Regions from separate parts of the Homo sapiens genome. Here regions 2 and 3 are each linked to region 1. The links come from fine-mapping of genetic effects on gene expression. A gene starts in region 1. Each other region holds a variant in brackets. All regions are shown on one strand. Distances are between the middles of the regions. Region 1 holds the start of DDX47 (DEAD-box helicase 47). Region 2 has its middle 26 kb from the start of DDX47. Region 3 has its middle 5.7 kb from the start of APOLD1.

Region 1 (10,896 bases):
GTGCAAGCAAATGATTCCCAAAGCTTTTTATTCCTCAACTCCTTGGGGATACTGCCGTCCCAGCCTGTGTAACACAATACACCTTCGGGAACAGCAGGCGGGGGAACTAGGATTTGTCCTTTTTTTGTCAAGGGAAATCTTAACATTTCAGAAGAAAGGAGTACATAAGAAAGATTTAGGGAAGTAAAGGAGCTGAAGTCGCTTAGTTCATGAAGCAATAAGCACTGCTCACTGCCTACAGCTGAGGCCTGCACTGCTTTCAGTTTTTTAGTAAGTCCCTCACAGCAACCCTCAGTTTGTGAAACTGATATATTTTTCTACGTCATCTCCTTTCTTCATCTCTGAAGAAACCGCTAAGCCTTTTCAGTGTTTATACCTGTAGAGAATATACCAGAATGCATAAACTCCATAAGAGCAGAATAGATTTTGTCATATAGACCTGCCACATTGCTGGCACCGAACATAAGCGCTTGCTATATGGCAGCCACTAATAAATTGTTTGAAATTCCTTGAGGACAACTTTAAGTGATCTCTGAAACAGACATAAATAGATGGTGTCTCAATGTGTTACCCAGGCAGGTCTCAAACTCCTGGTCTCAAGCAATCCTCCCACCTCAGCCTCCCAAAGTCCTCGGATTACAAGCATGAACCACCATGCCCATCAAACAACTTTTGATCTCTTGATAGTAACAAACTTTGATGCAGGTCCATTAATAGAGGTTTTTTGAGCTATAAGATTCTATGTTCAAATTCAGGCTCTAGCAATAATTAGTTAGGTGACCTTAGCCAAAGGACTTAACTCCCTGAGTCTCAATTTCCTCACTAATAAAATAATTATCCGTAACTACCATTCAGCATTGTTATAAGGTTTAAGAACAGCGGACAATCTGGGCTCAGTAACTTTGCAGAAACTGAAAACGTCAGTAGTCCCAAATTCAAATTTAGAAGTTATTTTCACCGAATAACAACAGCAACAAAAACAAACAGATTATTTGAATCATTTCTATAGATTCAAATGAAGCATTTATAAACTATTCATTAGAATGAGACAAACCCAAGAATAAGGATAAAGACATTTCTATGGTGATCATTTCTGTCAGTTCCTAGTAATCTTCCACTGACCCCTCCCTATTCTTTTCTGCATCAAATTTAAACTTATGGCTGAAAACATCAGAATAATTTTAGGATTACTGCCAGCTATTTTGACTCCTTCTCACCTACACTGTAGGGCAAGCTGGAAAAGTTAAAATGCATGAACGCTTCTTGCTATTTAAAAGTAACACTGGGCCGCTGATAGTTCTTTCCCACCACTGGCCTTTATACGGTCCTTATCCTCCAAACTTCTCTGCACAAGTTTGAAGTGTTTACTAATCCCTCCTTGAAACAGTTTCCCTTCCCTAATTTGTGTGAAACTATACTCTCATGATTTTCAACCCTCTATTGAATCTTCCAATTTTCCTCTGTCATCTTTGCCAATCTAATCCATTTCCAATCTCAGCTATAACCGCTCTTTGGATACAGTGTGTATATCCAGCTCTGGCCTCTCAATCAAGTTCCAATCCCAGGATTCCAACTGGGTATTTTTTTCCTTTTTTATTGTCCCCCAGTTTTGTTAATTGACAAAAAATTATACTTATGGTATACAATGCAAAGTTTAGATACATGTATACTTTGTGAAGTGATTAAATCAAGCTCATTAACATATCTGTCACCTCACATACTTGTCATTTTTGTGGGGAGACCATTTAAGATCCACTCTCCTAGCAATTTTCAAATACACAAAACATTATTCACTGTAGTCACCATGCTATTCAATAGATCTTCAGAACTTATCCATCCTGGCTAACTGAAACCGTACCCTGAGCAACATTTCCCCATTCCCCTCCCACAAGGTCAACTCTATCTCATTGATATCCAAAATCAATTACTTCCAACTGAACTCATCTTTCCTGCATTTTTCCCCCGTTCCTTTTTTGTATCAGTGGTACACCAATAATATGCCCTAAACATACAGCCTAGAAACTTAGATTTTCCCCACCCCTTCCTTGCCTTCCACTTGCTTAACTGGTTGTAAAATCATAATGATTCTTTTTCCAACATTTTCTTTTTCATTCTACCACCACCCTACCCATTATTGATTGCAAAAATCATTACAAAGACCTACTAATTGGTTTCCCAGACTCAGTCTCTTGTTTCTAATGATCTTTCACAGCTATGAGATTAATCTTCCAAGAGTACAACTCTAAATCCTTCATCTCCAAAAATGCCCCACTGCCTATGAAACGAAGACCAAATTCCTTGACCCAGCACTCAAATCCTTCATAATCCGGCCCCAATCACCTTACTAAACTTTTTCACCACTCTGCTAAGTACTTGCAAATCTCCATACATGCCCATGTTTTCCAGTTGGCTTTTTTTCATGCTGTTCCCTATGCCTAGAAAGTCCTCCCCTCCCATCATATCTGAATGTCTAAATCCTTCTAAAGTCAGTGTTCAAGGTTCAGCTCACATGTCTTCCCAACCTCCCCAGCCAAAAATAAAATGAAATAAATCTTCTCTAATCCATCCTAATTAGAAGTAATCTCTTCTCCCTCAGTGCACTCTGAATGTAACTTTCTTAGGTCCCTGTTCAACTTGTAATAAATTTATAATTATCTCTTTAATAGATTATAGACTCTTGGAGAGGACAGACTGTTAACCTCCAGTGCCTTACATTTACAACAAATAGTAACTATTTATGGAAAGAGCAAATGGAATTTTGTAGAGTAAGTCTAACCCCTTTTCCACATGACAGCTCTTCAAATCATTAAATCTTTCAATTATTATCAATAATAATCACTACATTAATTACTAATGAGTAATAATTATAGCTTACATTAATCACTAATAATATAGTAATACAGTAATAGCTACATTAATACTAACAATAATTAGCCACATTACCCCTCTTATAACAATTGCTATGATTACATTCACTCTCTCTGAGGATCTTAATAGATTTCAGTTAACTAAGACCTCTGGGCCTCTTTTATCACCCACCCTAATCCTGTAAAGTTGGTACTTTAGGAATCTAAGAGCAGGACTTTACTTCTACTCCTATTAAAGTTCATCCTGTTACAGCCAGATGTGGTGGCTCACACCTGTAATCCCAGCACTTTGGGAGGCCAAGGCAGGTAGATCACTTGAGGTCAGGAGTTCGAGACCAGCCTGGCCAACATGCTGAAACCCCATCTCTACTAAAAATACAAAATTAGCCGGACATGGTGATGCGCCTGTAATCCATTACTTGGGAGGCTGAGGCGGGAGAGTTGCTTGAACCTGGAAGGCAGAGGTTGCAGTGAGCCAAGACCGCACCACTGCACTCCAGCCTGGGCGACAGAGCGAAACTCTATCTCAAAAAAAACTCCATCTTAAAAAAAAGATCTCAAAAAGAAAAAAGTTCATCCCATTAGTTTCAGTTCCAGTAGCCATCAATCTGCTTTAACCACTGTTTTACAAATCTGATAAACATGGCTCACAGCAAGAATTCTCAACTCCTCAAGACACACATATGTGTTCCAGGCATCCTTCCCTAAGTGTGCGCCCACTGATGCATAAAGTCTACCAAGATTGTCGTTAATATACTTTAACTTTAACCTAGGGCTTCCTTAAAGTCAGCATCTGTGGCAGAGAACAAACCCTTTCAGCTATTAAGACAGAAAGTAAGCTCAGTAAAATTGGAGAATGACATTTTCAAATACCATTACCCAAACTTTGTACCTTTAGTGACCATATCCTTATTTCACTTGAAGTATGCAAGCAACAGCTTTCAAAAGGGGTATCTAATTGAGATAACTTTATATTAAATCTGTACGAAGTCATACAACCTACCTTGTAAGGCCAAAGGAATAGCTTCAATCTGGATCTTGGTGGGTTTTGTCCATCCCAACTGGTCACAAGCTTCACACAACACATCTGTCACACCCTTGGAATTCAGAAAAATATACCTTAGCCAAGAACAGCACACCCCTACCTCCCTCCTACTTAACTGACTGTCAGACCCATCATGTACAACCATTGTATTTGATTTAAAAGGTATTTACTGTGCATCTCAGAGCCTACTCTTTAACTATACCATGAGACAGTAGCTCAAGACTTAACGAACACTTTCTGCTCACCAAGGCCAAGGCCAGGTGCTTTACATGTATCATCTCATTTAATCGTCACAACAATTCTGCGAGGTAAGTACTTATTACTATCCCCAATTTACAGATGTGGAAAGAGAAACACAGAGAGGTAACAACTTGTCCTCAGTAAGAGACTGTGTCAAAATTCAAATCTGGTTGGTTCATCTGACTCCAAAGCTCCAGTTATAAAGAGACCAATTCCATTCCCCATATGTACAACCTCCTGGATGCACATACAAACGTTGCCACACTAAAGTGGCGAATAGGGCAAATAGGGGGTCTCAGGGCCCAGCAGCCCTCCCACCACCCAAACTCAGAGCACGTCCGAAACCCAGCCCTCTGAAATTCTGGGGAAAACCCAAGCTAGGCCCCAAGATGCTTTTGTACACTATCAGAGCGGGATCTAAGGTACCTGGGGTCTCCCTGAGCCTAGCACCAGAGTACATAAAAGAAGCCAGCGTCATCCATTCTCACCAGGTCTTTAAATGTTTTAGTTTCCTCCTCTTCCACAATCGGCTGGGACGCTTCGGTCGGAGAATCGTGTTCCTCGGGTGCCGCCATCTTGTGTGAGGTCTCCGGAAGTGGGTCTGCGGCGCGCGGGATGCTGGGAAATGTAGTTTTAGTTCTCCCCGGACGACGTGCTCTGCGCGCCCCCTGCGGGCTTGCCGGGGATTGCACCCGTCCGCTAGGCAGGTGGGGCCCAGTGAATATGGGCGCGTAGGCTTGCGGAATAGATCCGAGTGCAGAAGGGGCTGATCACCAGGGACTCCAGTTGACCTTTAGGTCCCTTTTAAAGAGCCTTCCCTACGTGTGTCGCCAGTTATGTTCCCCGCTTTTCTAACCATAGAGTTTGGAACGGATTGATATTACAATACTATTTTTTTATTATGTCATTACTTTATTCAATAATGTTGAGAACCTACCATTTGCTAAGGCTATGCTAGATGGCTGGTGAATAGGACAGCGACCCCTGCCCTCGTGAAGAAAAAGAAGACAGATCATAAATAAGCTATCACAGAGCATTTCAAATTGTGAAAAGTAGCTGGGTGTGCTCACGCCTGTAACCCCAGCACTGTGGGAGGACGAGGCGGGCGGATCACTTGAGCCCAGGAGTTCGAGACCAGCCTGGGCAACGTGGCGAAACCCTGTGTCTGCAAAATGCAAAAATCAGTCAGGCATGCATGGTGGCATGCGCCTGTAATCCCAGCTATTCAGGGGGCTGAGGTTGAGGGATCAGTTGACCCCGGAAGTTGAGGCTGCAGTGAGTGGAGATGGTGCTACTGTACTCCAGCCTGGGCAACAGAGTGAAACCCTGTTCACATAAAAATTACAGAGTAACCTGGGGAGGGTGGGTTGTGGGGATAACTGTGAGATTGGGAAGGCCTCTCTGAGACAGTGATATTTGAGTTAAGACCTCACTGTTGAGCAGGAGAAAACGCTTTAAGATCCCAGGAGATAATCATTCCAGAGTGAGAGAATTCCAAGTACCAAGACTGTGAAGCTACTAAGGCTATTCTGGAAAGCAGCAAATTCAGAGCTGTATGTTGCATGCCCCATGGCCAGCGAGTGCCCTCCTGTGGCCTGTCACTTGGGTCTCACACTGCGCAGGGTGCTCGTTGCAGTTTTATTCCTGAGGATGGGAAGTTGGGGGCAATCTGGTGTCCGTCACTGGGAAAATGCATAGTTAAAATGTGAACATGGTGTCTACAAACATGCCCTTAACAATATGATTAGATCTGAAAAACCTAGTGCTTAGTGAGAAAAGCATAAAATATATCAAGTATATTAAAATATAGGCCCACAGATATCACATTCTGCTAAAACACATCCAACAGAAGATACACTTGAAATATTTTAGAATGGTTGCCTGCAGAGGGAGAAGAATTAGAATAAAACTGGGAATTGGGAATAAAAGAATTAAGTGTATAAGACAATAGGCCGGCCGCGGTGGCTCACACCTGTATCTTAGCACTTTGGGAGGCCAAGGCAGATGGATCACTTGAAGTCAAGAGTTCGAGACCAGCCTGGTCAACATAGTGAAATCCAGTCTCTACTAAAAACACAAAAATTAGCCAGGCATGGTGGCCTGTGCCTGTAATCCCAGCTACTCGGGGGGCTGGGGCAGGAGAATTGCTTGAACCCCGGAGGCGGAGGTTGCAGTGAGCTGAGATCATGCCATTGCACTCCAGCCTGAGTGACAGCGCAAGACTCCGTCTCAAAAAAAAAAAAAAAAGGATAATAAATACACAAAGCAAGAGAGGAGACTTGTGATGCCAGTGTGCTTGACCTGAGAATTGTGAGGAACTCAACTCAATGTGCCTGCCGACCTCCCCACCACCACAACTAAAAAAGGGCCCTGATTTAGGCATCACAGCAGTGTCTCAACAACAAAAAGGGTAGGATGTGGTCAGAGAATTGGGCTCAGCTCAGACTCTGCAGGACCCTGTTGTAAAAGGTCTGGGGTTTTGGATGTTATCCTAAATGCAGAAGGAAGCCACTGGGGGTTTAGAGCAGGGAAGAGACATGATCTACACATTTAAAATATTACTCTAACTCTATATGGAGATAGGCTGTAGAAAGAGTGAGAAAAGGAGACCATCTAAGACAGCGGTCCCCAACCTTTTTGGCACTAAGGACTGGTTTCGTGGAAGACATTTTTTGCACAGAATTGGGGCGGGGATGGTTTCAGGATGATTCAAGCACATTACATTTATTGTGCAGTTTATTTCTATTATTATTACATTGTAATATATAATGAAATAATTGTACAACTTGCCATAATGTGGAATCAGTGATAGCCCTGAGCTTGTTCTCCTGCAACTAGATGGTTCCATGTGGGGGTAATGGGAGACAGTGACAGATCACCAGGCATTAGATTCTCATAAGAACCACGCAACCTAGATCCCTTGCAATAGGGATTGTGCTCCCAAGCGAATCTAATGCCGCAGCTGATTTACCAGGAGGCGGAGCTCAGGTAGTAATGCTTGCTCACCTGCTACTCACCTCCTGCTGTGCAACTCAGCTCCTAACGGGCCACGGACTGGCACCAGTCCATGGCCCAGAGGCTGGGGACCCCTGATCTATGTTGGGAAAAGGGCTTGTGGGGTGCCTGCATAAACGGGCCATAAAAATATGGGACAATAAGTTGTGGCAAGTCACAAAAGGCCTCTGAGGAGGAAAGCCTTCTTATCGCCATTATGTTCCCATGCTCTGAGCGCAACCTGCTCTCTTATCTATAAACACTGTGTTCAAGGAGAAAGACACTCCTTTGAAGCATTGAAATGTGGACAGACGTTCAGGCTCCTAGTTAAGCCCACTCCCACTAGCTACTCTTCGATAAGTTAAAGATATGCTGTTTGAGAACAAAGGAGACTCATTTAAACAGCCATTGCTATAGATTACGCCTATGACATACTGCCTCCCTTTCACTGTTTCACCCTAAACATCTGCTTCTTAGATCTAAGGGATTGTACTCAATAAATAGAGTGAAGACCAGAACTCTGGGCCTTTTGCAGCCTCCATTTTGCAATTGGCCCCCCGGCCCCCACTCTTTATGCACTCTTAACCTGTCTCTTCTCATTCCTTTGTTGCCACCGGACTTTGGGTACCCTACGGGTGGTGTTGAGGCTGGTCCCCAACAATCTAAGAGACAAGGGATGATCTTCATACCCCTGGCTCTAAGCACAGGCCCTGGCAAGAAGTGGATGCTCTGGAAATGCTGCCTGGCTGAAGTAAAACAGCAAAGCATTGGGATCAGGAACCATAGCAGACCAGAGAGGACTTCACTCTTTGTTTTTTAGGGAGTGAGGTTTTTCCATATTTAAGATTACATTCCTGGCCGGGCACAGTGGCTCACACCTATAATCCCAGCACTTTGGGATGCCAAGGCAGGTGGATCATTTGAGGTCAGGAGTTCAAGACCAGCCTAGCCAACATGGTGAAATCCTGTCTCTACTAAAAATACAAAAATTAGCCAGGCATAATTGCGGACACCTGTAATCCCAGCTACTTTGGAGGCTGAGGTAGGAGAATAGCTTGAACCTGGGAGGCAGAGGTTGCAGTGAGTCGAGGTCGTGCCACTGCACACCAGCCTGGGCAACAGAGTGAGACTCTGTCTAAAATATATATTTTTTAATTTTATATATATATGTATATATATATATATATACACATATATATGTAGTAAAAAAAGATTACACTGCTGCAGAATAGGCTGGGGACTTTGGTCTTTTTACATTAGTTCACTCCAAGTTACAGGAAAGGAGAGAAAATACACACTGCATAAGACAACAGGTCACCCTGAAATTGATTCTATTGGGCAGTCACAGGCATACAATTATGCTAGCCCAGTCTAAGGCATTCCATCTCTCTATTTAGCCCTCCTCATGGCTACCATCTCATTCTCCTATGACTTGGAATTGGGCCACTCTAGATGGTCTCCAAAGTCAATACATATGCTTTGGGATAAGGGGAAGTCAACTTCTCCCAAAGAGAATCTACCCAGCTAAATTGGGCTCTTCCTCTTCCTCTTCTCTGTTACATAGACCGGCTGGGGAGTTTGTATTCCTCTTTTGACAGAGGAGGAACTCTAGTCCCAGAGAGTAAAGAGACACAAGAGTAAAGAAAGAGTAAAGATCACAAGAGACAAGAATAGAAGCCAAGCCTCTTAGACTGGGGGCAATGGTTCACACCTGTAATGCCAGCAATCTGGAAGGCTGAGGTAGATGGATCACCTGAGGTCAGGAGTTCAAGACCAGCCTGGTCATCATGGTGAAACCCCGTCTCTACTAAAAATACAAAAATTAGCTGGGTGTGGTATTGTGAGCCTGTAATCCCAGCTACTCGGGAGGCTGAAGCAGGAGAATTGCTTGAACCTGGGAGGTGGAGGTCGCAGCAAGCCGAGATCATGCCACTGCACTCCAGCCTGGGCAACAGAGCAAGACTCCGTCTCAAAAAGAAAAAAAAAAAAAGCCAAGTCTCTTGAGACCAGACCAAAACTTTTACCAAAGAGAGCATCATCTTACATAATCGAAAGCAGCTTTCTTCTTCAAAAGCAGCCACACAGACTTTTCTGTAAAAACAAAGAGAGAAAGCAGCTGCAGTATTTATTTTGCTTCCCCTTGACTCATCCTGTGATTGCATTTAGGAGAGTGGAATGGGAAAGAAGAGCTGAGAGGAGAGGATCCTGATTGGGGAGCAAGGGGAAGCAGAGATAAAAAGCCTGAAAAGGGGACTCAGATGGAAACAACTGGAAGGTCTATAAATTTGCATATCATATACCTTCTAAAGTTACCTGAGTTTTGTTCGAATGCGTTACAGAAAAGAAAAGGAATCACCCATAAGATGTCTGGGGGTGCCTGCTGCTTTAAAGAGAACCGATTTAAGCCTTTCAACTGCAGTTGTAACATCAAACCCTGTTGATTTTAGCCAAGCAAGTCTTTTCTGTTTGTTCTTGGATAATTCAGACACAGGCTGTTTTTAAAACTTCCTCTGGTGTCAGTGTCCCCAGGGTATCGAGGGCCGTGAAGAGGATGTGGCATGCAGTGACAGCAGCGTCAGCGCTGCTCAGTTCTTTAGTCTGTTCCTGCCAGCAAAGTTTGGGCCTTGGAACAGCACCTACCCCAGTGACCAGATTCATGTCAGACTGACAGGATGACCATAGGTGGGTTCCAAAGAGGAAAGCCTGCAGTAGCCGAGATGATTGTCTGCTTTTGACTATTCCTATCAGGTTGAAGCAGTTTGGATATTTATACTCTGGGAATGGAAATAATAGAGGTCCATTCTAGTCACTGAGCCACGTCATATCCTGTACTTTCAGAACAATGAGAAAGGTTAAAGAGGAAATCTAAATAAACACTCTAAATGATGAGGGAGGAAAAGCAAGCCCGAAACAATATATGGGCTCCAGAAGGAGAGGTCGAAGGGCCTGACCCCATCTTACTCAAAGGTTTTCATGAGCCCCAGACTCCTTTGCCTTCATGCACCTCTTCTTCCACAAAAAAGTATTAAAAATTATATTTTACAACTGCATTAGTATACAGATAAATATATTAATGTTATGTATTAAAACTTGTTCTCCGAGTTAACAAATTTTTTTTTTTTTTTTAGTTTTTAGAAACAGGCTCTCTCTGTTGCCCAGGCTGGAGTACAGTGAGTTCTGATTGTGCCACTGCAACCTTGAACTCCTGGACTCAAGTGATCCTCCCACCTCGGCCTCCCAAAGCACTGGGATTACAGGTGTGAGCCACCTGGCCCCCCCTCCTTTTTTTTTTTTTTTGAGATGAGGTCTCACTCTGTTGCCCAGGCTGGAGGACAGTGGCATGATCTCAGCTCATTGCAACCTTTGCCTCCCAAGTAGCTGGGACTACAGGCACGTGCCACCATGCCCAGCTAATTTTTGTACTTTTAGTAGAGGTGGGATTTCACCATGTTGGCCAGGGTAGTCTCAAGCTCCTGATCTCAAGTGATCCACCTGCTTCAGTCTCCCAAAGTGCTGGGATTACAGGCATAAGCCACCGCGCCCTGCCCTGGCCTTCTTTTGATTTTGAAAGAAATGAAAACCTGTTTTTGGAGATATGTAAAAGCATTGTGGCTCTAGGCATTCTGTCTACGGCACCCCACAGATAAGGGAAGGGTGTGAGGAACGTGGAGGAAGCCTGCCCAGGCCAGGAACCCAGGACCACTGTGGAGGTGAGCAGGCTGGGATGTTGGTGGTTCCTGGTGCAAAAGT
Region 2 (10,896 bases), 27 kb before region 1:
TAAAACGAGGCTGGGCATGGTGGCACACGCCTGTTATCCCAGCACTTTGGGAGGCCAATGCAGGTGGATCACCTGAAGTCAGGAGTTCACGACCACCCTGACTAACATGATGGAACCCCATCTCTACTAAATACAAAAAAATTAGCCGGGCATGGTGGTGCATCCCTATAATCCGAGCTACTTGGGAGGCTGAGACAGGAGAATTGCTTGTGCCTGGGAGGCAGAGGTTGCAGTGAGCCGAGAACACACCATTGCACTCCAGCCTGAGCAACAAGAGTGAAACTCCGTCTCAAAAAAAAAAAAAACCATCAAATTTGAGTGAACTCAGATTTAAAGAAAGCTATTATGTAATCATATTATTTAAAAATATAACATTAGTGGATCTTATAAACAGTACTTGTTTGAAGTTTTTTGTATAATTCAGAATGAAAAATCTTTTGTGTATGAAAAATATTTTGTTTATAAAAAAAAATTTTTTTTTTTTTTGAGACGGAGTCTCACTCTGTCGCCCAGGCTGGAATGCAGTGGCATGATCTCCGCTCACTGCAAGCTCCACCTCCCGGGTTCACGCCATTCTCCTGCCTCAGCCTCCCGAGTAGCTAGGACTACAGGCACCCGCCACCATGCCTGGCTAATTTTTTGTATTTTTAGTAGAGATGGGGTTTCACCATGTTAGTCAGGATGGTCTCGATCTCCTGACCTCATGATCCTCCCGTCTCGGCCTCCCAAAGTGCTGGGATTACAGGCGTGAGCCATCGTGCCTGGCCTTATAAAAAAATTTTTACACAAACCTTTCAGAAAATAGAGAATGGGCTGGGTGCAGTGGCTCATGCCTGTAATCCCTACACTTTGGGAAGCCAAGGCAGGAGGATCACTTGAGCCCAGGAGTTCAAGACCAGCCTGGACAACATGGTGAAACCCTCTCTCTTAAAAAAAAAAATGCAAAAATTAGCCAAGTATGGTGGTGCACAGCTGTGGTCCCAGCAACTTGGGAGTCTGAAGTGGGAGGATCACTTGAGTCTGGGGAATTGGAGGCTGCAGTGGACTGTGATCTTGCCACTGCACTCCAGCCTGGGTGATAGAGCAAGACTCTGTCTCAAAAAAAGGAAAGGCCGGGCGCGTTGGCTCATGCCTTTAATCTTAGCACTTTGGGAAGCTGAGGCGGGTGGATCACCTGAGGTCAGGGGTTCGAGACCAGCCTGGCCAAAATGGTGAAACCCTGTCTCTACTAAAAATACAAAAATTAGCCGGGCATGGTGGTGGGCACCTGTAATCCCAGCTACTCAGGAGGCTGAGGCAGGAGAATCACTTGAACCTGAGGGGCGGAGGTTGCAGTAAGCCAAGATCAAGTCACTTTATTCTAGCCTGGGCAAAAAGTAGAGAATGAGGAAACTTTTTTTTTTTTTTTTTTTTTTTTTTGAGACGGAGTTTCACTCTTGTTGCCCAGGTTGGAGTGAAATGGTGCGATCTTGGCTCACCACAACCTCCGCCTCCCAGGTTCAAGCGATTCTCCTGCGTCAACCTCCCAAGTAGCTGGGACTACACTACAGGCATGAGCCACCACACCTGGCTAATTTTGTATTTTTAGTAGAGACAGGTTTTCTCCATGTTGGTCAGGCTGGTCTCAAACTCCTGACCTCAGGTGATCCACCCACCTCAGCATCCCAAAGTGCTGGGGTTACAGGCGTGAGCCACTGCGCCCAGCCGAGGAAACACTTCTTAATTCATTTTATAAGGCCAGCATAACCCTGATACCAAATCTTGCCAAAGACATTACCAAAAAAGAAAAGTATAGACAAATTATGATATATCCATGTAATGGAATACTACTGAGCAATAAAAAGGAATGAACTATTGAAACACACAACATGGATGAAACTCAAAATAATTATCCCAAGTGAAAGAGGTCAGATTTTAAACAGAATACACTGTATTTAGCCAGGTGCTGTGGCATGCATCTGTATTCCCAGCTGCTTGGGAGGCTGAGGCAGGAAAATCGCTTAAGCCTGGGAGGCAGAGGTTGCAGTGAGCCGAGATCACACCATTGCACCTCAGCCTGGGTATCAGGAGTAAAACCCTGTCTTAAAAAACAAAAAAGAAATGATTCCATTTATACAAAACTCTAAAAATGCAAACTACTTTGCATATTGACAGAAAGCATATCAGTGGTTTCCTGGTGTCAGGCAGGGAGGAGGAAGCAAGGAAAGGCAGGAGGGAGGGATGACAAGGAGCATGAGGAAACTTTGGGGATGATGGATGTGTTCATTATCTTCATCGTGGTCACAGCTTCATGGATGTATATATATGTCAAAACCTATCAAATCCAGTATGTGTATGGGTTTTTTTTTTTTTTTGAGACAGGGTCTTGCTATTTTGGCCAGGCTAGTCTCGAACCCCTGGCCTCAAGCGATCCGCCTGCCTCAGCTTCCCAAAGTACTGGGATTACAGGTATGAGCCACCACACCCAGCCATGTTTTTGATACCTCAGTAAATCTGCTGTGGGGAGGAGACAAGGAGAGAGAGAGAGAAAGAAAGAAAGAAAGAGAGAAGTCAGCAAGAGAGAAGGAAAGAGAGAGACAGAGAAGGGTGAGGGAGAGAGAGAGAGATTTTCCATGGGAAAAAATTTCCACAGTGAAGAATAGCTAAAATCAAAAAGCCTGACAACACCAAATATTGGAAAGGCTGGAAGCAACTGAAACTCTCTTACCTGCTGGCCCTGGCATGTCCCAAGCACAGAAGGGAAAGCTGGAACATTTTGAGAAACACACTCCAAAGTGCAGGGATTCCTGAGGAGCAGGCCTGGGGAAGGGTCTCACTTGCCCAGGTCTAAAGTTGGTGCTGTTCAGGGGCTATGGGAGGTGGTGTTCCCCACTTTTCCTCCCGCAGAACTCCCTCACAATAGAAGGGGGTTGGGACCCAAGTCAGGCCCCAAAGCAGCACTTGCCCACTCCACACTCAGGCCGTAACCGCACATTCTGATCAGCATGAGAGGACCACTCCAATTTCCTAACATTTCTAACGAATGCAAAACACTTGACCTTAAAGTTGACCTGTGCAGGCTTATTTGGGGTAAATAGAAGGTTTCTATTAGGCTCTGGAAACAGTGAAAATAGCTCACACACCTATAAACTCTCAAGGAACTGGAGAATCATCCTGGTTTGAAACCAGAATTTGAAGGCCCCACTCAGTTTGAACGTGGGAGATGGAGGTTGCAGTGAGCCAAGATTGAACCACTGCACTCCAGCCTGGGCAACACAGTGAGACTTCACCTCAAAAAAAGAAAAAAAAAAAAAAAAAGGCTGGGCTTGGTAGCTCACACCTGTAATCCCAGTGCTTTGGGAGGCCAAGGTGGATGGATCATGAGGTCAAGAGATCGAGACCAGCCTGGCCGACATGGTGAAACCCCATCTCTACTAAAACTACAAAAATTAGCTGGGCGTGGTGGCGCACACCTGTAATCCCAGCTACTCAGTAGGCTGAGGCAGGAGAATCGCTTGAACCGAGGAGGTGGAGGTTACAGGGAGCCAAGATCACGCCACTGCATACCAACCTGGTGACAGAGTGAGACTCTGTCTCAAAACAAACAAACAAAAAAAAGTTGGGCTGGGCACGGTCCCTCACGCCTGTAATCCCAGCACTTTGGGAGGCCAAGGCAGGCGGGTCATGAGATCAGGAGATCGAGACCATCCTGGCCAACATGATAAAACCCCGTCTCTACTAAAATACAAAAAATTAGCTGGGCGTGGTGGTGCACTCCTGTAATTCCAGCTACTCAGGTGGCTGAGGCTGGGGAATCGCTTGAACCCGGGAGGCAGAGATTGTAGTGAGCTGAGATCACACCACTGCACTCCAGCCTAGGGATAGAGCAGGTCTACATCTCAAAAAAAATTTTTAAAAAGTTAATTTCATAATGAAACATAAAATAATGCTTTTAAAGACTATTGCGGGCTCAAACCTTCGCGCTGACATGGCTAAATGCACCAATAAAGTTGGAATTGTCAGTAAATACAGGATCCGCTATAGTTAGTTAATTTCATAATGAAAAGTTAATTTCATAATGAAACATAAAATAACGCTTTTAAAGATTATTGCGGGCTCAAAACTTTGCACTGACATGGCTAAATGCACCAATAAAGTTGGAATTGTCGGTAAATACAGGATCCGCTATGGTGCCTCCTTCCAGAAAATGGTGAAGAAAATTGAAACCGGCTAGCACGCCAAGTACAATTGCTCTTTCTGTGACAAAACCAAGATGAAAAGACGAGATATGGGGGTCGGGCACTGTGGTTCGTGCATGAAGACAGTAGCTGGTGGTGGCTGAACCTACAATACCACTTCTGCCGTCACAGCAAAGTCTACAGTCAGAAGACTGAAGGAATTGAAAGACCAGATGTTTCTCCACCATTGGAGACATCACTAGCCTTTAATAAATGGGTTAACTTATGTAATAATAAAAAAGGACCATTATCAGCATAATTCCCTAGGGCTATTGTCCTAAACTTACTTACTTTTTTTTCTTTGAGACCGAGTCTTGCTCTATTGCCCAGCCTGGACTGCAGTGGTGCCATCTCGGCTCACTGCAACCTTCACCTCCTGGGTTAAAGCGATTCTCGAGCCTCAGCCTCCAGAGTAGCTGGGAATACAGGTGCCCACCACCATGCCTGGCTAATTTTTGTATTTTTAGTAGAGATGAGGTTTCACCATGTTGGCCAGGCTGGCCAAACCTTCTTGATATGCATCCTATTCAACATAATATCTTTAACATACTTGCACATATGTTAAACAATTACATACATAATAAATATATACAAATATGCCATATCCATACATATTTATTATGAATTGTTTACAGCAAAACTTTACACTATAACACATAAAAAATATAAATTAGAAATGGATGGGTTAAATACAGATAAAGGTTCTAGTGTCTTCCACACCCCAACAGACCGCCTTGTAATATG[T/A]TGTCCCTGGATGCCCGTGCCCCAGGGCACGGAAACAACTTCTTTAGGCCATAGAGAAGAGAAATGAGCCCTGGCTGCAGGCCACTGGCCAAAGAGTGACTCAGGGACTCTGGAGAACACAGTAGGAGAAGGGGCAGGAAATGATTACATGGCTGAGTACCATAAAACCATGAAGTTTATGGACAGGCTGTAAATCTGAACATGACACCCTTCTCCCCTTTCCTCTCTCTCCCAGCAACCCGCCCAGGTGGGCCACTCTTCTGTCATTCCCACATAACCCTCTCAGTCAGAGACTTGTCCTTGTAGGGCCCTCTCGTCCCCTTCAAGGCTGCCCTTGGTGATCACACATAATTCTGAGTTCACCCAGACATAGATGCTGAAGAGGTGAGGTACAAAGTGTGACTTACCCACACGCCGCACTGACAATAGACCCTAGTGCCTGGTTAGGGGCATCACTGGCATTTATTAGGAAAATGAGTTAGGCTAGCCAGCCTTCTCTAAAGCATACTTCTGTCGCCTAACTACTCCCACTACTCTTCTCTTTTTTTTGAGATGGAGTCTCACTCTGTTGCCCAGCCTGGAGTGCAGCGGCATGATCTCGGTTCACTGCAACCTCCACCTCCTGGGTTCAAGTGATTCTTCTGCCTCAGTCTCCCGAGTAGTGGGATTAGCAGGCACGAGCCACCACACCCAGCTAATTTTTGTATTGTTAGTAGAGACGGGGTTTCACCATGTTGGCCATGCAGGTCTCGAATTCCTGACCTCAAATGATCTGCCCACCTCGGCCTCCCAAAGTGCTGGGATTATAGGCATGAGCCACTGCACCCAGCCCCCACTACTCTACTCAAAAAGGAGCCTTCAGTCTTCAAGACTGAAAAGCAGGGCCTGTTTTTTCTCAGGCAGATATTATGAACAAAATTCCACTGAACTTTTTTTTTAATTGAGGGAGTCTTTAGTGTCTGTCTTAAATGGCTAAGAGCTTGTGGGCACACTCTAAAACATATACAAACCTGTAAACATACACATACTTCCTTTAAGTATCTTCAAAGGAAAAATGAACAGATTCTGGTGATCACCAACATCCTCTCTGTCTTCACATGCTGATTTTATGTGAGGTTTCACGTGAATCTTCTGGCAGTCCAAAGGTCACTTTTATTTTCTGGAGATTTAGTAAAAAACACAAAACTATGGTGCTCAATTTCATTTTGTCAGCATAGGCTCACCCTGCAAAATTCCTGAATACCCTTGGATGAATTTAAGAAATCACGGAAGACAGAATAAAGAATAACTACGCTGCGCCGGGTGTGGTGGCTCACGCCTGTAATCCCAGCACTTTGGGAGGCCAAGGCAGGCGGATCGCCTGAGGTCGGGAGTTTGAGACCAGCCTGACCAACATGGAGAAAACCCGTGTCTACTAAAAATACAAAATTAGCCGGGCATGGTGGTGCATGCCTGTAATCCCAGCTACTTGGGAGGCTAAGGCAGGAGAATCCCTTGATCCTGGGAGGCAGAGGTTGCGGTGAGCCAAGATCACGTCATTGCACTCCAGCCTGGGCAACAAGAGCAAAACTCTGTCTCAAAAAAAAAAAAAAAAAAAAAGACTAGGCTGCAGTTTTAAAATATGACAAACAAGCTTTTCTGATCTGCAGTTTCCTCGAGAAATGACTCATGACCTCCAGTAAAAGAAATAATATATGCCAGTCACCTGGCAAACTCCTAACACACAGGAGGCTCTCCTCAGCCCTATTGTAAAGAATCACTTATTTACTATTTACCTTTTAGAGACAGGGTCTTACCCTGTCACCCAGGCTAGAACGCAGCAGCACAATCATAGCTTACTGCAATCTCATCCTCCAAGACTCAAATGATTGTCTTGTCTCAGCCTCCCAAGTAGCTAGGACCATAGGCGGGGTCCGCCATGCCCAGCTAATTTTTTATTATTTTTGTAGAGATGGGGTTCTGCTGTGTTACCCAGGCTGGTCTCAAACTCCTGGCCTCAAGCAATCCTCCCACCTTGGCCTCCCAAAGTGCTGGGATTATAGGCATGAGCCACCATGCCCTGTCCAAGAATCACTTATTTAAAACCAAACCAACAACCATTACAAATGTACAAATAGACGTATGTCAAATAAGAAATCTTTGGATAGTCCCCACTCTTGACCCACCCAGAAATCGCGACAGGGATGTTGGTTTTAAGTTGGCACTGGATTTAATAGCTTGGGTAAGAGAGTTTCTAAGATATCAGGAGTTACCAGTGGACTCCTCCCCCAAAAGAATGTGTGAGGACAAGAGCCAGCATCACATCAGTGAGAGCTGGCCCAGTATAAATGACCACCATGCTTGATTGCTGCTACTACTCTTTTGGACCCAGAAGGACAACTCCCCATCACTTTGGGCTGAAGGACATGTCTCTAGGATAAAATGAACGAACAAGCAGCTCACAGGTTACCCAGCACCAAGCTTATTTGATACAGGAGCACGGGCTGTGGACCAAGCCTACTGGATGGATACGCAGTGAGGAGAGAGGGAAGCAGTGAGGGGGGTCGGTGGCTCACAAACAACGTGTATTGGGATAGGCGGGGGAAAGAGTATTCCTGACTTACAGACTGGGGTAGGGGGTGGGGAAAGGAGCAAACAAAGCAAGTGGCTTCATCAACATCCCAGAGGGAAAGGCAGGCTTTGGAAAAGAACCAAGTGTTTGGAAGTTGACGAGGAGGGTCCACAGCCAGGGACCGCGCAGTAGAGACGACAGAGGAACGCGACCTTTTTTTCTAAGTGCATCTGAACTTGCCTTTACTTCGGGGCTCCCAGTCCCCATCCTCTGGGTCAACCTAGCAGATCTTCTTGAAGGCTGACACCCTTCACATACCTGTAGGTAGTTCTCCTCCCCACCCTGACCCCTGACCCCTAGTTCCAGTGGGACTGTCCTCCACTGTAGTCATACAAGGAGTCTGCCTCATCTGCCCCTGTGCCTCAGCCACAGCCCACTGTGAATCACTCGGCTCCAAATTAAAACTCCTTCCCTCTCCGGAGTGGTCTTTTCTTCCTTCTGCCATCTACTGGTGAAAACAAGAATGTCTTATTTTCTTACCTGCCTGTTGCCAATTTGAAAATAGCTTGGAACCTGAAAGTTCATTTGCATAGTACTTACTTGTTGTGTGGAACATACTGCATGAGTAATATGGAATTACACATATATACATACACACACACACACACATAACAAACAGTGTATTTAGTGTAAAGGGCAGAGGCTTGGAATCCAATTTGGCTTCAAATTTTTACTTAGCCCTTTACCAGCTGTATGATCTGGGTACGCTGCCAGTCTTCATCTATGCTAAAAGCCACAATTAATGATCATTATAATGACTAACACTTACTGATTGTTATCATGAGCCACAGTATAGTTCATTTAACTTCACAATGCTGTACTATAACTGTGTGTCTTCAGATAAGAAGGTTGAAACACAGGAAGGTTTAACAACTTGTCCAAAGTCTCACAGTTAGTCAGGGGCCGATTTGGCAAACTGGCTCCATAGCTCATATTGGGAACAATAATATCGACTGTTCGGGATTGTTCAAAGAACTAGAAATAATACAGGTCAAGCCGCCTGACACATCTTAGGTTTCAGAAAATGACAGATATTGAACATTTACTGCGTATGGGCCCTGTATGATATTAGTAATATCCACAAATTAGGCGCGGTCCCTGCCTAGTAGGAAGCACAATCACTATACAATACTAAGGCTAAGTTCAGCAAAAATAGCATCTGACTCTTTTTTCAGTATTGGTTTCCTAGTATCTGGCACACTGGCTAGGATATGGTGGACACTGGAAGGGAAGGAGGAAAGAAACAGAATTTTAAAAACTAGGTTCGAGATTCTGTGAGGCAGGCCAGGTGTGGTGGCTCACACCTGTAATCCTAGAACTTTGGGAGGCCGAGGCAGATGGATCACCTGAGGTCGGGAGTTCGAGACCAGCCTGACAAACATGGCACCCTGCCTCTATTAAAAATACAAAAATTAGCCCGGCATGGTGGCACATGCCTGTAATTCCAGCTACTTGGGAGGCTGAGGTGGGAGAATTGCTTGAATCTGGGAGGTGGAGGTTGCAGTGAGCCAAGATTGCACCATTGCACTTCAGCCTGGGTGACAGAGACTCCATCTCAAAAAAAAAAAAAAAAAAGATTCTGTGACAGAGATAGGCTTGACGGTCTTCTTTCCATATTAACAAATGAGAAAACTCAAGGTTCAGAGAGGTTTAGTAACTCCCACAAGGTCACACAGCAACAGTGAACAGTCCGATGACTTACACTTTCCCCACCTGTTCCTTTCCCAATTCCTCCTGCTCCTTCCGGCCTCTTTGACGGCACTGGCAGATGATTGAAGGGTGACAGTGACAGGAGACATCCTTTGTGTTTGGATGGTATAAGGGGATGGATGGCTACGAGCAAACAAAAGCTCCAAGACTCTGAGCAGACCTTGGGGCCCACCTCCTAGAGACTGCATGGTTCCAGAGGAGCCCATTTTCTTCCTGTCTCCTTTCCACTTGGCACCAATCAGCTCTTCACTTCAGGTGAGACTGTTCAGTGCTATTTCCCAGACTTCAAGTTTCTGCAGTTATTTTTAGCGGTAGTTTTAGTGCATACCTGGGATAGGTGAGGCATGAAAAGGAATGCGGGTGTGGGTAACCCTTCAATCTCTAGAGTTATGGTCTGAGTCTCTTGTCATTCCAGCTAAAGAGGGGTGACTCACACCCTGATTTCTTACCTGCCCAGAGGCTAGATTTCACCCTAAGAACCATGTGGATTAGAATGTCTTGTATATTCTCTTAGTTTTAAGGACACAGTTTCTTGATGTTGCTTTGTTACCCACTTTTGATAACTTGGATCCTTTCATTTTCTGTAACCAACACCACAGCCTGTGGTTCTTTCTGGTCCTATTTCCCAGGGTTTTGAGGGACCCAAGGTAGATAAAGTCTCCAATTTAGGTTTGTGGATGCCTCTGCAGGCAGAAAGCTACTTGGAAAACACTCTGTCTGTAAGCAAGATGTCCTTAAAGAGCCAGCCAAGTTCTGGGATATTCATTGCATTTTTTGAGAGACTGAGAAAGAATAATCATGATCTAGTTGGTCTAGGCCCCTCTTAGCAACTACAATCCCCTCAGAGTGCCCTCAGAGAACCTGCTTCATGGTTCCCTGGAATTCTGGGCCTGCTTTAAGCCTGAAATAGCCTATCCAACTGAAACCCTCTCACTAGGATCCTAGGACCCCTTCATAAGATAGAGAGGTGTTTTCCTCATTCTCACCCTCACTCAGCTCTGTACAGAGGAAGTAAAACTAGGCTAGCCAGTACCATGAAGCCATTGTTACTGCAACTGCATACAATGAATACTATATAAATCAGTTTTATAATTCAGATGAGAAATAAGAAGACATTTTCTCTGGGCTGATATCATATGACTATTCCAAGATACTCCCTTTATTAAGTCATAAAAGTTAGATGTATCTGTTTACAATTAGGGTGGGAGAAGATTGTTTTGAAGCTCACAGTTTCTTTTTTTTTTTTTTTGAGATGGAGTCTCGCTCTGTCGCCCACGCTGGAGTGCAGTGGTGCGATCTCGGCTTACCGCAAGCTCTGCCTTCCGGGTTCACGCCATTCTCCTGCCTCAGCCTCCCCAGCAGCTGGGACTACAGGCGCCCGCCAACACGCCTGGCTAATTTTTTTGTATTTTTAGTAGAGACAGGGTTTCACCGTGTTAGCCAGGATGGTCTCAATCTCCTGACCTTGTGATCCGCCCGCCTCGGCCTCCCAAAGTGCTGGGATTAGAGGCGTGAGCCACCGCGCCCGGCCGGCGAAGCTCACAGTTTCTTAAATCAGGAATGCAGAACTAAGGAGTTGTACCAAGAAGGGAATAGCAGAGGGGTCAGGGACCT
Region 3 (10,896 bases), 33 kb after region 1:
CTAATGACGCGATAGAGAAGGCCTTCAAACGCACCCCAGGCTGACCAATTATAGTGTTTCTTGAGGCCACCATTACAAAATCATATTTTAAAAGAAAAGGGAGGGGGTGGAAAACCCTCATATCTGACATAGCCGCTCATACTCCACTGCTGTATTTTTAAAAGCGTTGTGAATCTGTGAGTGGCTGGAGCCTGGGATCATTTGGCATGCAGCGGGTACCCTGCAGTCCTAAGAATGCAAGGCCACACCCACAGGAAGTGCTGCGTGCAGTTTTGGGCATCTCCAGCTGTGGAGAAGACATTGGCGGTCTCAGAAAGGGCACACTCCAGGTCACATGCATCAGAAAAATCAGTGGGGTCAGGCTGCATGAGGAGCTAATTGTACACTTTCAACCACAATAGGGCATTGGCTTCCCAGGTTTTCATTTGAAGTAGCAATTGTAGCCCATGTGATAGGGAAATGAGTGGATTCTGTCTACAGGGTCATGAGGCATGGGCTGAAGGGCAATTATTTTGATAATTCAGCACAGAAAAGTGAATGTAGCTTCTGTGGACTTGCTGCAGACCAGACCAGATGGAACATAGATATCTCTGGGGCATTCAGAGGTGGTTGGAGCTCAGCCTAGGAATTCAGTCCTACTACATGTCCCCAAATCCATCCATCGTCCTTCTAACCCTCTCCTCCAGATAAGGAGGGCCAAATTCGTTTCTCACTTGAATAAGGATTATCTCAACTCTCTGGCTTACCTGGAAAGCCTTAACAGCCGTATCATTCTGGAACATGATTAAATCCCCCACCTTTATGACTATACTTTGTATTTATCAACACAGTATAACAACAGTAGCAACAGAAAGGACAACCATAGTCCTTTCAAACTTGATTATTCTAGATTTGGTCCACTTCCAAATATTCTTGTTACAGCTCCTCAAAGGATAGCTGTAACCTCAATCTAGATGCCTCCAGTGTGTCCTTTTGAGGTTAGAAGTGGAAGAATATCCTCCTCTATCTCCATAGACATGGTCACTCCAAATGGGATGTGGGCCAGCGCGAATTGGGGAGGTAGACAAGAGGGAACATACCACTGATTCTTCAGCTGACACATGTTCCTCTAACTTCCCTGGACATCATCCTGTGTGTTTTGGGTTTAGAGGAACACAATTAAATCTTTATTTTATAGATGAGGAATATTGCTGGGATACAGGGTCTTCCTCAGAGCATCAATATCATAGTACAGAGGTGGGATGAAGAACCAGAAGGTAGAGGAAAATAGACAGCGTGTATACTGACCTCAGCCCATATCTTGGAATTTGTTTTTCTCTGTGTTGAAAGCCCATTTTCTTTGTATTTGCCTCTTTATGGAGGCAAAAAAAATTGAGTTAATTGACAGTTTGGGCTAAAGTTTTACTGCCCATAAAAACCTGGTACTTTGGCCAGTCATGGTGGCCCATGCCTATAATCCCAGCACTTTGGGAGGCAGAGGAGGGAGGGTCGCTTGAAGTCAGGAGTTCGAGACCAGCCTGGTTGACATAATGAGACCCCATCTTTACAAAAAATTTAAAAATTGGCCGGGCATAGTGACTCACACCTGTAGTCCTAGCTATTCAGGACGCTGAGGCAGGAGGATCACTTGCACCCAGGAGGTCAAGGCTGCAGTGAGCTATAATGGTACCACTGCAACACAGCCTGGATGATAGAGACCTTGTCTCAAAAAAAAAGCAAAAAAAAAAAAAACAAAAAAAAACCAACTGGGGCCGGGTGCAGTGGCTCACCCCTGTAATCCCAGCACTTTGGGAGGCTAAGGCTGGTGGATCACCTGAGGTCAGGAGTTCGAGACCAGCCTGACCAACATGGTAAGACCCCGTCTCTACTAAAAATACAAAAAAAACAGCTGTGTGTGGTGGCGTGCTCCTGTAGTCCCAGCTACTCAGGAGACTGAGGCAGGAGGATCACTTGAACCTGGGAGGCAGCAGTTGCAGTGAGCCGAGATCACACCGCTGCACTCCAGCCTGGGTAACGGAGTAAAACTCTGTCTCCAAAAACAAACAAACAAACAAACAAAAAACCCAACTGGTACTTCACCTTGTTTATAAGAACTGACACTTGAACTTAGCGATTCAATTCAGCATTTGTTTACTTTTATTTATTTATTTATTTTTGAGACGGCGTCTCAGTCTGTCGCCCAGGCTAGAGTACAGTGGCATGATCTCAGCTCACTGCAATCTCCGCCTCCCAGATTCAAGCAATTCTCCTGCCTCAGCCTCCCGAGAAGCTGGGATTACAGGCGTGCACCACTACACCTGGCTAATTTTTGTATTTTTAGTAGAGACGGGGTTTCGCCATGTTGGACAGGCTGGTCTCGAACTCCTGACCCCGGGTGATCCACCTGCCCCAGCCTCCCAAAGTGCTGGGATTACAGGCATGAGCCACCATGCCCAGCCAGCATTTGTTTAATTTCATATAGTAAAGACACAATAACAAATTTTAGGAACAAATGAAGGCATTTTGTTCAAAAGTTCTGTGTGGTCAGTTTCCACAAAAAAAAATCTGTGGACCACATCCTCAGACTTCTCTTTTAAATTGTTTGTTGGGCACTTCCAACACATCACCCTAGAGAGACTACACTGAAAATGGTAGTTGGCCTTCAAACTAGCCTTCAGATCTGTTCAACTCTTTTTTTGTTTTGTTTTGTTTTGTTGAGGCAGGGTCTCACTCTGTCACTCAAGTGGGAGTGCAATGGCACCATCACGCCTCACCGCAGCCTTGACCTCCTGAGATCAAGCAATCCTCCTGCCTTATTTTTTGACTTTTTGTAGAGACAAGTTGTCACTGTGTTAAACTCTTGATGCAGCTGAACCGCGGCATTAGCTGTACTAGTTTGAATTCTGAGTCCTCGAACCATGAGGAAATTCAGTGTAGGAAGGACGAGAAAGAGCTTTTTAAGCATAGGAATCTTCAGGCCCCAGCCCTGGAGAGTCTAATTCAAGAGGTCTGGAGTGGGATCTGGGAGAATACAGGTGATTCCTACCTGCAGCCAGGTTTGTGAACCACTGCTCTAGGAACTGGTAGTGTTTGTTTGTTTGTTTGTTTGTTTGTTTGTTTGTTTGAGACGGAGTCTTGCTCTGTTGCCCAGGCTGGAGTGCAGTGGTGCGATCTCGGCTCACTGCAGCCTCCGCCTTCCAGGTTCAAACGATTCTCCTGCCTCAGCCTCCCAAGTAGCTGGGATTACAGGCACGCACCACCATGCCCAGCTAATTTTTGTATCTTTAGTATAGATGGGGTTTCACATTGTTGGCCAAACTGGTCTCAAACTCCTGACCTCAGGTGATCTGCCCACCTCGGCCTCCCAAAGTGCTAGGATTACAGGCGTGAGCCACCATGGCCAGCCAGAACTGGTAGTTTTCTGACCACCAGTTACATGGCAGCAGAAACAGTAAGTCTAGCGGAAAGGACTATGTTAGGAGGTGTTTATACAGTTATCAACAACCCATTTGCTTTAGGCCCCTACTTAAAACTATTACATTTTAAAGATAAAGTATGCCGGGCGCGGTGGCTCACGCCTGTAATCCCAGCACTTTGGGAGGCCGAGGCAGGCAGATCATGAGGTCAGGAGGTCGAGACCATTCTGGCTAACATGGTGAAACCCCGTCTCTACCAAAAATACAAAAAATTAGCCGGGCATGGTGGCAGGCGCCTGTAGTCCCAGCTATTCGGGAGGCTGAGGCAGGAGAATGGCGTGAACTCGGGAGGTGGAGCTTGCAGTGAGCAGAGATCATGCCACTGCACTCCAGCCTGGGCGACAGAGCGAGACTCCGTCTCAAAAAAAAAAAAAAAAAAAGATAAAGTGATAATTACGCTCAAGGCCTTTCAGAGGACTGGGCCACCTCCATTTTTTGAGACTCTCAGTTATTTTATTTTTTATTTTTTTGAGACGGAGTTTCGCTCTTGTTGCCTAGGCAATGACGCGATCTCAGCCTACTGCAACCTCCGCCTCCCAGGTTCAAGCAATTCTCCTGTCTCAGCCTCCCAAGTAGCTGGGATTACAAGTGCCTGCCACCACCCCTGGCTAATTTTTTGTATTTTTAGTAGAGACGGGGTTTCATCATGTTGGCCAGGCTGGTCTTGAACTCCTGACCTCAGGTGATCCACACGCCTCGGCCTCCCAAAGTGCTGGAATTATAGGTGTGAGCCACAGTGCCTAGCCTCTCAGTTGATTTTTAAAAATGAAGAAATTCTATAATGGAATATAAAAAATTGTGGCTTATTTCTTTTAATTGCAATGTAATATATCTTATGTCAGTATTTTGCTATTCACAATATAGTCACAGGATTTATAAAATATTAATTCATAGTGCACCAAGTGGAAAAGTGGCACAAGTTTAAAGTTATGTGATGATGACTTTTTCCTTTTAATACTTAACTGTATATCTCAGTGACTAAATATAGGACCTCTTTTGGAGACATCAAAAATATAAAATTCAGGCCGGGCATGGTGACCCTGCAATCCCAGCACTTTGGGAGGCTGAGGTGGAAGAATCACTTGAGCCCAGGAATACAATACCAGCCTGGGCAACATGGCAAAACCCCATCTCTACAAAAACTACAAAAATTAGCTGTGTGTGGTGGCCTGTGCCTGCAGTCCCAGCTACTGGGAAGGTGGAGGTGGGAGGATCGCTTGAG[C/T]CCCGGAGGCAGAGGTTGCAGTGAGCCAAGATTGCTCCACTGCACTCCAGCCTGGGTGGCAGAGCCAGACTCTGTATCAAAATAAATAAATAAATAAAATTGAAATAAAAAATAAAATTGAGACAACTTGTAAATGTGAGGTTTAGTCCAAAGGTCTTGCAGACTTTCCTTTGTCATCTGTTCTAATATGTACATTCACCAAAATAAAAATAAATTCGGCCAGGCACAGTGGCTTATGCCTGTAATCCCAGCACTTCGGGAGGCTGAGGCAGGCGCCTCGGTGGTGTGTGCCTGTAGTCCCAGCTACTTGGTACTTGGGAGGCTAAGCTGGGAGGATGGTTTGAGCCTGGGAGGTGAGGCTGCAGTGAGCCGAGATCACACCACTGCACTCCAGCCTGGGCAATAGAGCCAGACATTGTCTCAAAAAAAAAAAAAGCAAATTAAAATAATAACACATATTCACCTGAGGATTTTTGCCCATGATTTCTTTGAATTTCCCCAGAATGTAAGTGCTCTAGAACATAGTCAAGCTCTCATAGTTGCTTGTTGAATTTAACTAAAGAAAAATGCTTTGTTCACTTAAAGAAATATCATTATTTTATAACAATTTTATAAGAATTTAACATAAAATTTTCTCTTGGACTATACAGCTTGGTATAACTTAGAATACTTATTCTGCAGAAGACCTCTAGGATATCTATATTGCATGGAATCTCAAGTATTATTGTCAAAAATTCATGGAACTGCACAGGAAAATAAAGACTCAACAAGTACTGCACTCCAGCCATTTTCATTCCTCCAAATTAGCCTCCAATCTTTGTTAATGTACACACACATCCTTAATCACTAGTGTTTAAACACTAGCCTGTGTTCTTTTTTCTACTTAACGTTCCTGCAGATAGATACACACTTGTCTATGTTGACATAGTCCTCACCTCTGTCATTTTTTAATAGCTATGTAATAATCCCATTGTTTGCTTAGTCATTTCCCTGTTAGACACTTGGATTGCTTCCAGGTTTTTCACTGTTATAACTAGAGTTGCCAGGACATCTGTGTACATTTTTTTTCCTTTGGATTATTTCTTTGAGGAGTATTCACAAACGGGAAAATACCAAGTCAAGGAGAATGACCATCTTCATCGTTTTTGTTATATAGTGCTATATTGCTTTCCAGAAGAACCCATTTATAATGCCACCAGCTTTTGTAAGAATAGAGGCAGAAGGCTTTCAGAATTTGCTTATATTAATGTTTAATTTGTTCGATTTCAGCTCCACTAATGTGTATTGAACACCTACTGTGTGCCAGACATCAGGCTAGAGTCTGGGGACCAAAAGCTAAATAAGATATAGTCCCTGCCCTCCAGGAGACGGCAAATCTATTGGAAGAGAAAAAGACAGAATATATCATTTAAATTTAAGGTGGGGAAGTGCCGGGGTGTGTGCTGGTACCAAGAAAGCACAGGGCAAATACATGCCCAGGAAGTACTAGGGAAGACTTTCTGGGAGCACTGATATTGAGCTGAATCTTGAGAGTCAAACAGAAGTTATTTGGACAAAAATTAGGAGAGAGAGGAGGGCAGTCTGGACAAAGGAACAGAATGGACAAAGGAATGGAGGAGTGTCCAGGGTGTTTAGTGTTGCTGAACATAAAGTGGGAAGCAGGGAAGGCCAAAGGATGAGGCTTAAGGGGTAGGTAGAAGACAAGTCATGACAGCTTTCCAGTGCCATGTGGGAAAGAGGGAGCCATTGAAGGCTTTCATCTGTGGCCTTACAAGGTTAATTTGACATTGTTGTGTGACAGTTGTGTGAAGGATGGTTCTCAGAGGTACACAACTAAAGCCAGGAGACAGTTAGAAGGTTATTGAAGTAGTTGACAGAGATTATCTCAGATTTGGCTAATGTTGGTAGGATGCAATGGAGTGGATAAAGTACAGAATATGTTTTGGAAGCAAAATTGACTAATCATTCCTAAGGCTGCTCAGACAGGGTAGCCATCACATCCACTGGCATTCTATTGGCCAATCAAGTTGTGGCCAACCCAACATTAAAGGGGTAGGAGCTAGGCACACTGGCTGGCTCCTGTAATCCCAGCACTTTGGGGGGCCGAGGCAGGAGGATTGCTTGAGCCCAGGAGTTTGAGATCAGCCTGGGCAACACAGTGAGAACCCATCTCTATAAAAAAAAAAAGAAATTAAAAATTAGCCACACGAGGAGGTGTGCACCTGTAGTTTCAGCTACTTGGGAGGCTGAGGTGGGAGGAGTGCTTGAGCCTAGGAGGGCGAGGCTGCAGTGAGCCATGGTCACACCATTGCACTCCAGCCTGGGCAACAGACTGAGACCCTGTCTCAAAAATGTAAAATAAAATAAGCAAAAAGATAGAGAGGTATATGCCTCCCACAGGGAGAAGCAAGCAGAAGAAATGTAAACCATCAGATCATTGTCAGGATGCTTTCCTGGCCAAGTACAGTGGCTCACACCTGTAATCCCAGCACTTTGGGAGTCCAAGGCTGGCGGACTGCTTGAGCTCAGTTTAAGACCAGCCTGGGGAACATGGCAAAACCTTGTCTCCACAAAAAAATAAAAAATAAAAAAAATAGCCAGGTGTGGTTGTGCACCCCTGTGGTCCCAGCTATTCAGGAGCCTGAGGTGGGAGGATCGCTTCAGCCCCAGGAGGCAGAGGTTGCAGTGAGCCGAGACTGCACCACTGCATTCCAGCCTGGGTGATAGAGTGAGACCCTGTCTCAAAAAACAACAACAACAAAAAAAAAAAAAAAAAAAAAAAAAAAAAAAAAAAACACCTTTCCTTGTAGAGAAGATATTTCCAGGTGAACTGTGACACCATCATCCACCTCCTATACCCTCTTCCTCTTCAGTTTGTTCTTTGGAATTGCCGTCTCCATCTGGATACACAGGTTGAGACGTTGAATTTCCCTAATGCAAAAATCTGAAATCTGAAATGCTGCAGTGAGCATTTCCTTTGAGCGTCACACTGGTGCTCAGTAAGTTTTGGATTTTAGAGTGATGCTCAAAGGAAATGCTCACTGGAACATTTCGGATTTCAGATTTTTTAATTAGGGATGCTCAATTGGTAAACATATAATGCAAATATTCTAAAATCCTGCCAAAATTGAAATCCAAATCACTTCTAGTCCCAAACCTTTTGGTTAAGGAATACTCAACTTGTAGTAAAAATCTCGCTCTGGCTAATATAAGCGAATTATTGCTATGAGACTGAGGGAACACATACTTGAACATGGGAAAGGACCATGGAGTTCTAAAGAACCAAGAAACTGAAAGGACATCAGTCGTTTTGTAATTGGAACAGCCTGTGTGATGAAACTGACCAACCACTCTTTCCTTTTGTCCTTGTATCAGTTTAAGAATCAAAGTTCCAGGAGTGACCACTGGGTTGGCTGAGCTTAGGTCAAGTGCCCATCTACTGTCTGCACTGGGCAGGGAGAAGAGGGGTGAATGGCCTTCAGCTTTCAAGTGGGAGATGGTAAAAGAACTTGACCTTCCCACCCACATTACATATATACTCAGGGAGAAGTTTCACACTAGGAAATTACAATGGGATTGCTATGTCAGGGAAAGGGAAACTGATGGTTAGATAAAACTAAAAAGAAAATATCCACAATAAACATTTTAGCCTAATTTGACCCACCTGGAGTTTATTATATACAGTGCATAGCGGGTGCTAATTCTTCTTCAGATGAATATAATTTTGATCATTTTTTATTTAAAAAATACACTTTTCTATAGATGTGTTATTGCTGGCTAGTCTTATATTGATTTGTTACCATTGTTAATATCTACTTCTAGGAAATCTATTCCACTAAACAGTTTACCTGTTTTTAATTCAATATAATATGATTTTGAATGTTACTGCTTCATAATCCGATTTTTTATTTTTAAAGGGAGACTCAACCTTCATTGCTTTTTGCTGAGGGAAAAAGGCATGTATCTTTGCTAATCTTACTTGCTTTTCTTTTGGACATATCTGATGCTGGGAACTCTTTAACTGTCCCAGGCTTCCTAATGTGTGCAGTTTAAAGTTTGCTCCGCTTCCTCCTCCACAGGTGTGCGCACCTGCACAGAACACCTGGGATCCTGTGGGTGAAACCTACACTATATCATTAATATAGAATCGTTTGCCCCATGGGCCCTATTACGAAATATCTAGTTTACCACATGCCTTTTCTTCTGGTGCCAGAAAGACTGCAGCTGAGTCCACATCCCTCCAGTAGCCATAAAGATTCTCTTATCTTCCAGGATACTGGGAAACAATTACCTTTGTCTGGCCCTTTCTCAGGCTTAGTCATTATCTTCCGAGTTCTCAGACATCTACAACAGTATTGCAGCCTGGATTATAACACCTGCTTGTTTTGTATCTACAGAGGCATCATAAATCTTAAGCTTTCCCTTAGCTTTTAGACTATTTGAATGGTTTAATTTGTAATATGCCTGTTATAGGTGAGAGAATGTTGGATACTTGTTTTCTTTTCTAACTTTGTTTAAAGTCTATTTTTAGTAGAATTCAGTCGGTTCACATTAAGCAATATGATGAAGCAAGGGGTGTATCTTCTAACACCCTGAAAGTTGGTCATTATTATTCTCCTTATTTGCTTTTATTAATTTAGTTTTGTTTGTTTGTTGTGTTTTTTTTTTTTTTTTTTTTTTTGAGACTGGGTCTCACCCTGTCACCCAAGCTGGAGTGCAGTGGCATGATCATAGCTCACTGTAACTTTGAACTCCTAGGCTCAAGCAATCCTCTCACCTCAGCCTCCTGGGTAGCTGGGACTGCAGGTGCACACCCCCACACCCAGCTAATTAAAGAAAGAAAATTTTGTAGTAATGAAGTCTCACTATGTTGCCTAAGCTGGTCATGAACTCCTGGTCTCAAGCAATCCTCTCGCCTTGGTCTCCAAAAGTGCTGGGATTACAGGCATAAGCCATTGTACCCAATCGTTTTTTAAAAAATGTAGTTTCTATGGTGAGTTTTCAACTCTATTTGCTCTTGAATTAGGTAAGAAAATGATTTTATGTAATCTATTTTCCTCTCCAAACTTGCTTTGTTAGACTATTTTTTAGAGCAGTTTTAGATTTGCAACAAAATTGAGTGGAACATACAGAGACACCCCGTGCTCCCTGCCCTCACACATGCATAACTTCTCCCATTATTGCCAGTGCCCACAGAGCAGTACCTATGTTACAATTCATGAACCTACATTGGCCCAAAGTCTGCAGTTTACATTAGGGTTCCTTATTGGTATTGTACGCTCTGTGGGTTTGAAAAATGTTTAATGACATGTATCCACCATTACTGTCTCATACAGAGTAGTTTACCTGCCCTGGAAATCCTCTGCACCTCGCCTGTTCATCCCTCCCTCCCTCCTAACCCCTGGCAACCACTGATCTTTGATCACTGTCTTCATAGTTTTATCTTTTCCAGAATGTCATTAGTTGGAATCACAGCATGTAGCCTTTTCAGATTGGCTTCTTTCATTTACAGACATGCACTTAAATTTCCTCCACATCTTTTCGTGACTTGATAGCTCATCTCTCTTTGGCACTGAATAATGTCCCATTGTCTGGATATGCCACCATTTATTCACTCAGCTACTGAAGAACATCTTGGTTGCTTCTGATGTTTGGCAATCACAAATAAAGCTGTGGTAAGCATCTGTGTGTAGCTTTTTGTGTGGACATAAGTTTTCAATTCCTTTGGGTAAATACCAAGGCACATGACTGCTGGATCTTATGACGAGAGTATGTTTAGTTTTGTAAGAAACTGCCAAACTGTCTTCCAAACTCATCATACCATTTCAAATTCCCACCAGAAATGAAGGAGAGTTTCTGCTGCTCCACATCCTCATCAGGGAATTTAGTATCGTCAGTTCTAGATTTTGGCCATTCTAATCAATATGTAATGGTACCTCATTGCTGTTGTGATTTGCATTCCCTGATGACATATGATTTGGGACGTCTTTTCATATATTTATTTACCACCAATATCTTCTTTGGTGAGGTGCCTGTTAAGGTCATTGGCCCATTTTTTGTTCAGGTTCCTTGTTTTCTTTCTTTTCTTTTCTTTACTTTTCTTTTCTTTCTTTTTTTTTTTTTTTTTTTTTTTTTTTTGGAGTTAGAGTCTCGCTGTGTCACCCAGGCCAGAGTGCAGCAGTGTGATCTTAGCTCACTGCAACCTCTGCCTTCTGGGTT

What was found. PIP is the estimated chance that this variant, and not a neighbour inherited with it, causes the effect.
Region 2: its variant is fine-mapped to the expression of DDX47 in whole blood (TOPMed, PIP 0.95).
Region 3: its variant is fine-mapped to the expression of DDX47 in whole blood (TOPMed, PIP 0.99).

The regions. Positions count from the first base shown.
Region 1 is chr12:12,807,199-12,818,094 of GRCh38, reverse strand. It overlaps DDX47 (DEAD-box helicase 47), which reads right to left and starts at 4,749. Exons shown (of 12, transcript NM_016355.4): 1 at 4,641-4,749; 2 at 3,871-3,964. The coding sequence starts at 4,727. RefSeq lists an enhancer at 4,613-4,922.
Region 2 is chr12:12,834,298-12,845,193 of GRCh38, reverse strand. It overlaps the pseudogene RPL37AP9. Among named protein-coding and RNA genes, the nearest start is that of DDX47, 26 kb to the right of the region's middle. RefSeq lists an enhancer at 9,108-10,307. The variant T/A (reference allele first, on the strand shown) is at 4,962.
Region 3 is chr12:12,774,466-12,785,361 of GRCh38, reverse strand. It overlaps a transcript of APOLD1 not described here. Among named protein-coding and RNA genes, the nearest start is that of APOLD1, 5.7 kb to the left of the region's middle. The variant C/T (reference allele first, on the strand shown) is at 4,678.